2 linked regions of the Homo sapiens genome follow. The protein of the gene in region 1 interacts with the protein of each later gene in a biochemical or structural test. Each region holds a gene or a part of one and is shown in the gene's direction. Other genes may lie near its edges.

Evidence for each region.
Region 2: the proteins of TBCD (region 1) and ARL3 form a complex in vitro, tested with the Homo sapiens proteins (one study listed by IntAct).

Annotation. Positions count from the first base shown.
Region 1 is NC_000017.11:82,762,022-82,769,313, forward strand, and holds part of TBCD (tubulin-specific chaperone D), read left to right. Parts: intron 1-1,943; coding exon 1,944-2,041; intron 2,042-4,245; coding exon 4,246-4,347; intron 4,348-6,398; coding exon 6,399-6,545; intron 6,546-7,292.
Region 2 is NC_000010.11:102,673,033-102,676,491, reverse strand, and holds the end of ARL3 (ADP-ribosylation factor-like protein 3), read left to right. Parts: 3' UTR 1-2,761; downstream 2,762-3,459. UniProt on the Homo sapiens protein: Small GTP-binding protein which cycles between an inactive GDP-bound and an active GTP-bound form, and the rate of cycling is regulated by guanine nucleotide exchange factors (GEF) and GTPase-activating proteins (GAP).

The DNA of each region.
Region 1 (7,292 bases):
TGGACATTTGAGTTGTTTCCGGTTTTTGGCTGTTATTAATAATGCTACTTTTTGGGAGGCTGAGGTGGGCAGATCATGAGGTCAGGAGATTGAGACTATCCTGGCTAACACGGTGAAACCCCATCTCTACTAAAAATACAAAAAATTAGCCCAGTGTGGCGGTGTGCGCATGTAGTCCCAGCTACTTGGGAGGCTGAGGCAGGAAAATTGCTTGAACCCGGGAGGTGGAGGTTGCAGTGAGCCGAGATCTTGCCACTGCACTCCAGCCTGGGTGATAGAGCGAGACTCCGTCTCAAAAAAAAAAAAAAAAAAAGTAATGCTACTGTGAAAATGTTTATGTACAAGTTTTTAGGTAGACAGAGGTTTTATTTTCTCTTGGGAAAATACGCATGTGTGGAATTGCTGAGTAGCAGAAAGTGTCTTACTTGTAGAAAGTGTATGACTTGGCCAGGCGCGGTGGCTCCTACCTGTAATTCTAGCACTTTGGGAGACTGAGGCAGGTGGATTGCCTGAGCTCAGGAGCTCAAGACCAGCCTGGGCAACATGGTAAAACCCCATCTCTACTAAAATACAAAAAATTAGCCGGGTGTGGTGGCAGGTGCCTGTAGTCCCAGCTACTCAGGAGGCTGAGGCACGAGAATTACTTGAATGTGGGAGGCAGAGGTTGCAGTAAGCTGAGATGACACCACTGCACTCCAGCCTGGGTCACAGAGTGAGACTCTGTCTCCAAAAAAAAAAAAAGTGTGTGACTCATCACCTGCCATACTGATGCCATGAAGATTGTACTGTTGACCATTTCTACCAACAAGGTATGAGGATTCCAGCTGCTCTGGGTTCTCTTCAGCACTCAGCGTTGCCAGTCTCTCTGATTTCAGGGAGTGTATCTCGTTGTGTCCTTCTCTGCGTTTCCCGGATGCCAGTTGCAGTTGTTTTCCATGTATGAAGACTTGCAGCCCAGCGTATGGTCTGTTTTGTTGAACATTCCGCGTGCACTTGAGAAAAATGTCTGTTCTGTTGTTGGGTAGATTGTTCTCTAAATGTCACGTAAGTAAGGTGGGTGATAGTGCTGTTTAGGTTTCAGCGATTTTCTCTTACTTGTTCTATCAGTTCCTGAAACAGGAGTGTCGAAGTTTTCAACCGTGTCTCCTTTCATTTCTCTCAGCTTCTTCTGTGCTTATTTTGAAGCTCTGTAGGTTGGTGTGTATACTTACAGAATTGTTAAGTCTTCATGATGAATTGATCCTTTTATTATCATGAAACATTCTGTTTATCTCTGATGGTAATGCTTGTTCTGACATTTACTTTGTCTGATATTAACAGAGCCACTCCAGCTCTTTTATGATTTGTGATTGGTTGGAATATCTTTTTCCTTTTGCTTACGTTTAACCTAGCTATGTCTTTTTGTTTGTTTTTGTTTTTTAAGAGACAGGGTTTTGGGCCAGGTGCGGTGGGCTCACACCTGTAATCCCATCACTTTGGGAGGCCGAGGTGGGTGGATCACCTGAGGTCAGGAGTTCGAGACCAGCCTGGCCAACATGGTGAAACCCCGTCTCTACTAAAAATACAAAAATTAGCCAGGCGTGGTGACGCGTGCCTGTAATTCCAGCTACTTGGGAATCTGAGGGAGGAGAATAGCCTGAACCCGGGAGGTGGAGGTTGCAGTGAGCTGAGATCACGCCACTGCACTCCAGCCTGGGGGACAGAGCAAGACTCTGTCTCAAAAAAAAAGAAAAAAAAGAGACGGGTTTTGCTCTGTTGCCCAGGCTGGAGTGCAATAGTAGGATCATAGCTCATTGCCGCCTTGAAATTCTGGCTTCAAATGATCCTCCCACCTTGGTCTCCCAAAGTGCTGGGAAAACAGGCATGAGCCACCACACCTGGCCGGCCTCAATGTCATGTTGATGTTCACTTTTACAGTAAATGTTTCCTATGTTTTTCCCTAGAATGGATGATGAACTTGTTGTTGGACATAGTGCAAGATCAGACATCTCCAGCTTCCCTTGTACATCTGGCTTTTAAATTTCTTTACATCATCACCAAGGTAACATTTCCATAGCACTTCAGAGTTGACAGATACTTTTGTAATATACTTGGTCCAGAGGTTACCCTCCAAAATGTTATTTCTCAAGAAAGATAGTTCTTAGACACAAGTTGTGGGTTTAATTCTGTCCCTTTTTACTGTATGTTGGGGATCAGAATTTAGTGATGTGGGCTCTTTGGCTGAAACAGTGTCAGGATATTCAGCATCTTGCATTTGAATAGATTGAAGCACTGTGTAGCTAGGAAGGGAATGGGGTGGAGATGAGACTAAATCAGAAAAACTTCTTACAAGGAGAAAGCAGGCCGGGTGCGGTGGCTCATGCCTGTAATCCCAGCACTTTGGGAGGCTGAGGCAGGTGGATCACCTGTGGTCAGGAGTTCGAGATGAGCCTGGCCAACATGGTGAAACCCCGTCTCTACTAAAAATACAAAAATTAGCTGGGCTTGGTGGCACATGACTGTAATCCCAGCTGCTTGGGAGGCTGAGGCGGGAGAATGGCTTGAACCTGAGAGGCAGAGGTTGCAGTGAGCCGAGATCATGCTGTTGCACTCCAGCCTGAGTGACAGAGCGAGACTCTGTGGAAATGGAAGTGCTTCTCACACTTTAATGTGCAGATGAATTTCCTGGGAATTTTGCTGTGCTATAGATTTTGAGCAAGTAGGTCTAGGCGGGGGTCTCATAGTCTGCTTTTCTTACAAGCTTGCGGGTGTCTGTGCTCATAGTCTGCTTTTCTTACAAGCTTGCGGGTGTCTGTGCTCATAGTCTGCTTTTCTTACAAGCTTGCGGGTGTCTGTGCTCATAGTCTGCTTTTCTTACAAGCTTGCGGGTGTCTGTGCTCATAGTCTGCTTTTCTTACAAGCTTGCGGGTGTCTGTGCTCATAGTCTGCTTTTCTTACAAGCTTGCGGGTGTCTGTGCTCATAGTCTGCTTTTCTTACAAGCTTGCGGGTGTCTGTGCTCATAGTCTGCTTTTCTTACAAGCTTGCGGGTGTCTGCTCATAGTCTGCTTTTCTTACAAGCTTGCGGGTGTCTGCTCATAGTCTGCTTTTCTTACAAGCTTGCGGGTGTCTGTGCTCATAGTCTGCTTTTCTTACAAGCTTGCGGGTGTCTGCTCATAGTCTGCTTTTCTTACAAGCTTGCGGGTGTCTGTGCTCATAGTCTGCTTTTCTTACAAGCTTGCGGGTGTCTGTGCTCATAGTCTGCTTTTCTTACAAGCTTGCGGGTGTCTGTGCTCATAGTCTGCTTTTCTTACAAGCTTGCGGGTGTCTGTGCTCATAGTCTGCTTTTCTTACAAGCTTGCGGGTGTCTGCTCATAGTCTGCTTTTCTTACAAGCTTGCGGGTGTCTGTGCTCATAGTCTGCTTTTCTTACAAGCTTGCGGGTGTCTGTGTGCTGGCCCAGAGGCTCACTGTTGGCAGTTTTGACTATGGAAGTACTCACAGCCGTCTCAGGGTGGGGCTTGGGGTTCGTAGTGGCGAGGCGCATTTCTGTTGTCTGGCGGGAAAGTCCTTGGCCAGCGAGAGGACACTGCGGGTGAGCTGCCAAGGACACGCAGGCCTCTGTAGCTCCTCTGTTTGAGGTTAGGATTTCTCCGGAAGGCGTGGTATCACTGAGCTTCAGGGAAGTGTTAATGAATTTGGGCCCTTGCGGTTTGTAGGCACTTATTCCTCATAAATGTCAGAGGACAGTCATATAAATGAACATATTTAATGACTGATTCCGTAAATATGGTAATGAATAACACTACCAATTTAGGAAGGAAATCTTTTTTTTTGAGAGATGGGGTCTTGCTCTGTCACTCAGGCTAGAGTGCAGTGATGCAGTCAGCTCACTGCAGCCTCGAACTCTTGGTCTCAAATGATTCTCCCTCCTGCCTCATCCTCTCAGACTACAGGCATGTGCCACCATCCTGTCTAATTTTTAATTTTTTATGTTGCCCAGGCTAGTCTCCAACTCTTGGTCTCAAGCTATTCTTTTGCCTCGGCCTCCCAAAGTGCTGGGATTACGGGTGTGAGCCATCGCTCTTGGCCATGGGTAGCTTTCTTGGGGTGACTACGGTCTTACTAAATTGTGTCACTGTAATGTCACAGAATTCTCTTTGATCAGTGGGTCGCGTAGCTGGTGATTTTTGATGAAAGGGTAGAAAGGCAATTTTGCTGCTCTCTGTATTTTTAAATGTTATAATTCAGCATCTCTTTATTTGATAGGTTCGAGGCTATAAAACATTTCTTCGTTTATTTCCTCATGAAGTTGCCGATGTAGAGCCTGTTTTAGATTTGGTCACAATTCAGAATCCCAAGGACCATGAAGTGAGTGTCTCTGCCTCCCCCCTCGTCTCCAGCCCTCCGTGCCTGTCCTTCCTCCCTGCTTGCCCCACCCTGCTGCACCTTCCCCTTCCTGTTTCTTTCATTTTATCTCCCTTTGTTTTGTGTCACTCCTCTTTTCTTTCTTTTCTTTTCACTTTTCCTTTACTTCTTGTACAAGTTGCTTTAAATTATTTTCGTTTAAAATAGCCCCTTTATAAAAAAAATTATGCCTAGGTGTAGTTTAACAATAAATCCGTCATTGTTTCTATGTTTTTTTAACTGTGTAAGTATAACTGTGTTGGGTTCCCAAGACCACCCCCAGGTTTGATACTTCCTGAGCGGGACTCACAGCACTCAGCATAGAGTCCTCCTTTTGGCTGTCACTTGTTATGGCAAAATAATACACAGCAAAATCAGCAAAGGGAAAAGGCACATGGGTGGGGTCTGGGGAGAACCAGGCGGGAGCTCCCGGGGTCCTCCAGTTGGGTCCCACAGGGCCTGTGTCATTCCCCCAGCAGTGAGATGTGACCACACCTGTGAGGTGTCTATCAGAGAAGCACGTTTGAGACTTGGTGCCCAGAGCTTTCACTGGGGTCTGGCCACATGGACACCTCTGCCTGGCACGAAACGAAATTCCAGACCCCCAGCAGGAAAGCAGGTGCCAGCGTAAAGCACACGGTTTGTGCAGATTGAGCCAGCGAGGGACCTCATCAGGCAGGGCTTGGTGGGAACCCTGCTGGTGTCCAGGTCCCTGGATACCAGCCCAGGGCCGGCCTCGTCAGGGGCCTTGCCTCAGACGGCAGCGGGGCCTGCTATGCTCGCTGTCTTCTGCGTGGTATGTATTTGGAGGAGCACACGGTTTATAACCGTGCAGTGCGGTGGCTTGTCTCGGCGTGGATGTGACTGATGAGCGCTGTGGGGCATTTCCCTGCTGCCCTGCACTCCGTGCCCTTCTTTCCCTAGTACTTCTAGCGCCCCCCAGTGGAATGATTGCAGGGACAAATTGGGATGTTTTTTACTAATTACTGAAAATAAGGGTACTCCTTTTTTATTAGAAGTTGATAATTGTTTTCTTTATTCTTTTTTTTTTAAAAAGACAGAGTTTCACTCTTCTTGCCCAGGTTGGAGAGCAATGGCACAATCTTGGCTCACTGCAACCTCTGTCTCCCAGGTTCAAGCGATTCTCCTGTGTCAGCCTCCTGAGTAGCTGGGATTACAGGCATGTGTCATCACGCCAGGGTAATTTTGTATTTTTAGTAGAAACAGGGTTTCTCCATGTTGGTCAGGCTGGTTTAGGACTCTTGACCTCGGCCAGGCACGGTGGCTCGTGCCTGTAATCCCAGCAGTTTGGGAGGCCAAGGTGGGCGGATCACGAGGTCAGGAGATCGAGACCATCCTGGCTAACACGGTGCAACCCTGTGTCTACAAAAAATACAAAAATTAGCCTAGCATGGTGGCAAACGCCTGTAGTCCCAGCTACTCAGAAGGCTGAGGCAGGAGAATGGCGTGAACCCGGAAGGTGGAGCTTGCAGTGAGCGAGGTTGCGCCACTGCACTCCAGCCTGGGCAACAGAGCGAGACTCCATCTCAAAAAAAAAAAAAGGAACTCCTGACCTCAGGTGATCCGCTCGTCTCGGCCTCCCAAAGTGTTGGGATTACAGGTGTGAACCACCACACCTGGCCTTTTTTCTTTATTCTTAGGTGTTTTTACTTTTTATCTGTTTTTCACTTTTTCAAAAGGCCAGTTTGTATGTGGAGAGGTGCCAGCGAAGAGAAGCTGCTATACTGATGTATTATGATTTTTCTTTGTTCATTTTGATGTCTCTCTTGTCTGCTGAGCTAAGTTACGGCGGTAGGTGTGTGTGGTGGGGATTCCGGGGGGGATGTGGCGAGGAGTTGGTGAACGGCTTGCATTTCTGGCCCTGAGGGTGATGGCATTTGAATGGCTTTCATAGGCATTGGGTGGGCATGGAGGGCAGTGACTTTGAGTAGATTGTGGCCAGTGGCCTGTGATTTTCAAGCAAGACTCATTCTTCCCGTGGTTTAATTTTTTAGGCTTGGGAAACCCGCTACATGCTTTTGCTCTGGCTCTCCGTGACCTGCCTGATCCCTTTTGATTTTTCTCGCCTTGACGGGAACCTCCTCACCCAGCCTGGGCAAGCACGAATGTCCATAATGGACCGTATTCTCCAAATAGCAGAGGTAAATATCATGCAGATAATTAGCTGCTAATTAGTACTCACTTTCATGTTCATGCTGTCTTGATGTTAGTGGTTTACTCGGTAAGCTTCTGATATGTATTCAACTGCTGTTTTTTTCAGTGGGGTAAAATCCCATAGGATAACTTATTTTGAAATTGTGATAATTCATGTAGGGGTCAGGTTGAGTTAGCAAATCTCATTTCTTTGTAGATGATGCAAATACTCTGTTGAGGGTAATCATGGCAGATAAGGAAGGGTTTAGTGGCATGGTGAGAGAGAATAAGGACCCATTTTACATTTAGTTCTTAACGTTATATAAATAATAGATGCTCATTTGTAGGAGAACTAGAAAATAAAGATAAGCAAGAAAAATACTAAATTTAAATTTATGAAATTCTAGTGCCAAGAGATAAGTTGTTTATTTTCTCCGAACTTTTCCTGATGTAAATATTATGCATATAAACACAGCTTATTGTATTAGTTATCTATTGGATCATAACTAATTACCCCAAACTTGAGTGTTTGACACACATTTATCCTCTTGTAGTTTCTGTGGGTCGGGAGTCTGGCATGGCTGAGCTGGGTCCTTTGTGTCAAGCTTGCCCACAGCTGCAGTTAAAACTCGACATGGGCAGGCTTTGCCCCAAGGCCGTTGGATTGAGGCCACCCTCAGTTCTTTGCCACCTGGGCCCCTCCAACTTAGTGACTTATTCCATCAAAGCCTGCAAGGGAGAAACTCTGCTAATGA
Region 2 (3,459 bases), on another chromosome or scaffold:
CTGACCCGTCCCTTGCATTCCCTCCATGGTTTTGAAACCACAGACAGTGTTTGCTGGTGCTGTCAGTGATTTTTACCGTCACTAGCCCAGCCAGGCTTCAGTCTGTCCGACAGGAAGCTGCTGGGTGGGGGTGGGGGGAGAAAAGGCAGATAATTAAACCATCTCATCGTCTTGCAGGTCGGAGACTACGTATGTAATCCTCACTCTTTGGACAGAAAAAAAAAAAAAAGTCTTTCTTGCAGACAAGTCACTACAGAAACATACCCCATCCCACCCACCCCTGCCTCTGCCCCAGCCAGCCACACAGAGAAGCAAATTCTTATGACTTTTGACTGTAATGACATCTGGAATGTAAGGAGAGGTGGGAGGTTTAATTCCAGAAAAATTACAAGGTCCTTAAAAAGCTCTCACATCGAGGGCTCAGGCTAGCGTAAACAGGCTTTCTCCAGCTCAGTGGAGCAGTGAGCAGCCGACTCTGAGATTAGCTGGCTTCTCCACGGCCGTCCTATAGACAGGATTTCTAAAGCTCAAAGAATTCTGTGTTTAAACGATCACAATAGGCCGCTGCTATCAGATTTTAGAAATAAATGCAGCTTTACCATGAACCTGCTCCACTGAGAAAAGCCAGGCAGATCGATTTTTAGATCAATTTTTACAGTGCTGGCAACTTGGTGGTGTGGGATGCTCCTGGATGGAGAGGGTTTGCTGCTGGGGAGGACATGGGTGTGTGTGTGACTGCAGGGGTCGTGTCCAAGGAATCAAGAGTCACCCCAGCTGCTGGGCTCCTCTGCCTCTCTGCAGCAGAATGTCCGTCCTCTGTTGATTGATTGGAGAGGAATAGCAGAACATTTCTCCTGCCCCTCGTTGCAAAACGAGCTTGTTTCCCTGAACCTCAGAAATCCTCAGCTTCAAACATGGGGAAACAGGCCAGAGCATTGCCCGGCTCCTGAATTAAACTCTGTTCTGGTGCCTGAGCTCAGGGGTTTTCAGAGAATGAATAAGAGACTGTCCAGTGACTGGTGGGTCCCTGGGGGCCAGCTGCCTTCTCATCCTGGGAGGTGGCCCTTCCCAAGCCCATCAGGGCGTGTGAGCAGACTGAAGGGGCCGCTGCAGCCCCTGGCCCTCAATACCCAGCTGCTTCTGGCTAAGAGTGCAGCAGAGACTGAGGCATAGCCAGCTTCAAAAGCGATCTGACATGAAAGTCATTAACAAAGCCAGCCGTGAAAAGGTGCCCCAGAGTTGCTGTGGACAGACCTGTAAGGACTTGCAAAACAAAAGAAAGTGAGGGGTTTTTTTAACCTCAGAGCTAGCTGCTCTCTGCAGCCTCCTCCACTGGCTTCTCTGGCTCACCCAAGCTCTCCCTTACAGAGGCAACACAGAATTATAAGGAATCAGAAATCCCCCTTCTACCAGGCTGCAAATGTGGCTCTAGCACTTGCAAATTGTTTTTTCTTCCGAATAGTTCAGCAGGGACAAGTTATCTGAGGGGCAAAATGCCTGCTTGGAGGTCTGCAATTTTGGAACACTGCAGTATGGAACTTTGGCATTGGAGGGTCTGTAAAATATTTTTGTTCTTTTACCACCAACTTAGGGGACTGTTTTAAAGAGCCATCCCAAGGCCTCTCCTAGCAGGCAGAAGCCACTCCTCTGATAACGGCCTCTGTAAATGTTCTGATTTGCTCTCAGCTGCAGAGACACAGAGACACTGCAGATGTCACACGCTTTCATCTTCCCTTTGAGCCCTTTTGAACCCTCCTGGGGCTCTGGGGTAGATGAGAGAAGCCTGAAAAAGGCAGAGTTTGAAAGCTCCCATTTAAAAACAAAATACTTTTTAAAGCCCTCTTGCCTCTTCCCTGCCCACTCCTGCCCCCTGACCAGAAGACAGAATTTGAAGCTGGAAAGGGAAGACCCCTTTTCCCCTCCTCCTGTCCCCAGTGAGTCTTAGCGAGACTTTTGCCCTGCGCACAATTGCATCTGAATGTGCGGGGGAGAGGGCTGGGGGCCGGAGGGCAGGCAAGGCCTGGGGGGTGCTCGTGATATGTGCTCAAGCCAGTTGTGGGAAAAACTCGAGTCCTCCCCTCCTCCCGACCTACCCCGTGTGGCTGCTTTTGGCTGGATTCCCTGCACCCAGTGCAACACACCCTTTCCCCTTCACTCTCCCTTGGTTACTATGGAAACAAGGGTGTCATTGATGTGGGCTGAGCTGGGGAACATGTCGGTGCACAGCTGAAAGTCAGCGATTATGCCGGCGGTTAGAAATGTGCCAGGGTTAAAGGAGTCCGCAGCTCCCACGGCTGCTGGGAGGACATGGTCCTGCCCCCTTCCTTCCTCCCTCCCTCCGTCTCCACTTCTCTCTCCTTGCTTTTGACAAATTTCTTTATTCCCCTCTGGACTAAAGTAGTGGCTATTTTTGTGCCACTCTGCGCCCCACCCTCACTGTTGGCCGCTCCTTATCCGGCCTGGCCTGGAGGGTGACACCATGTCACCCTCACCAGGACTCGTCTCTCCATTCCCGTCAGAGTTTGCTTTGATTTCCCTTTCCTTTCCTTCTCGGGGACCAGTTCTTACTTCCTTTTATTTTTAGCTCTGCACTCCATGTGGTTTCAGGGTTCAGTCTGATCCATCAAAAGGTTCTTTTTTTATAATCCCTTTTGAAAATGATAATCAAAGGAAGAGATGTGGTGTTTGGTCATGTGGAAAACTCAATGTATAATTTAGACGTCTGTCAAAAATCCGACAAATAAAATTTAGCTGGAACGAAGGCAGCCTGGAATGTGTTGTGTTCTTTGCTGAAGCTCAGAGAGGGCCTGAAATGTGTTTGTCCTTTCAGGGGTTAGCTTTCTTCAAGAGGTTTTTTCCAGAAGGATATATATATAAAATAGGATACCAACAATAGCAATAATAGCCCTTCATTAAGCCCCTCCTACGTGCCGGGCACTTCAGATACATCGTGGTGAGCATTAGTCCCCCTTTGCAGCAGAGGACATTGAGACATTTGCCCCAGTTAAGGAATTTGCCTGAAATCACAGAGCCTTTAAGTGCAGGTGGGGCCTGGAGCCTGGGTCTCAATGCTCAGCAAGCTGCCGCCTCTGGAGAACAAAAACAGTCAATGGCAAGGCCGGATCACGCCTGTAATCCCAGCACTTTCAGAGGCCAAGGCAGGTAGATCTCCTGAAGTCAGGAGTTCAAGACGAGCCTGACCAACATGGTGAAATCCCGTCTCTACTAAAAATACAAAATTAGCCGGGCGTGGTGGCACGTGCCTGTAATCCCAGCTGCTTGGGAGGCTGAGGCAGGAGAATTGCTTGAACCCAGGAGTCAGAGGTTGCAGTGAGCTGAGATCGTGCCATTGCACTCCAGCCTGGGCAACAGGAGAAAACTCCATTGCAAAAAAAAAAAAAAAAAAAAAATTTGTCAATGGCTCATCTCCCAGCAGCCTCAGCCCCCCCAGCCTCTGAG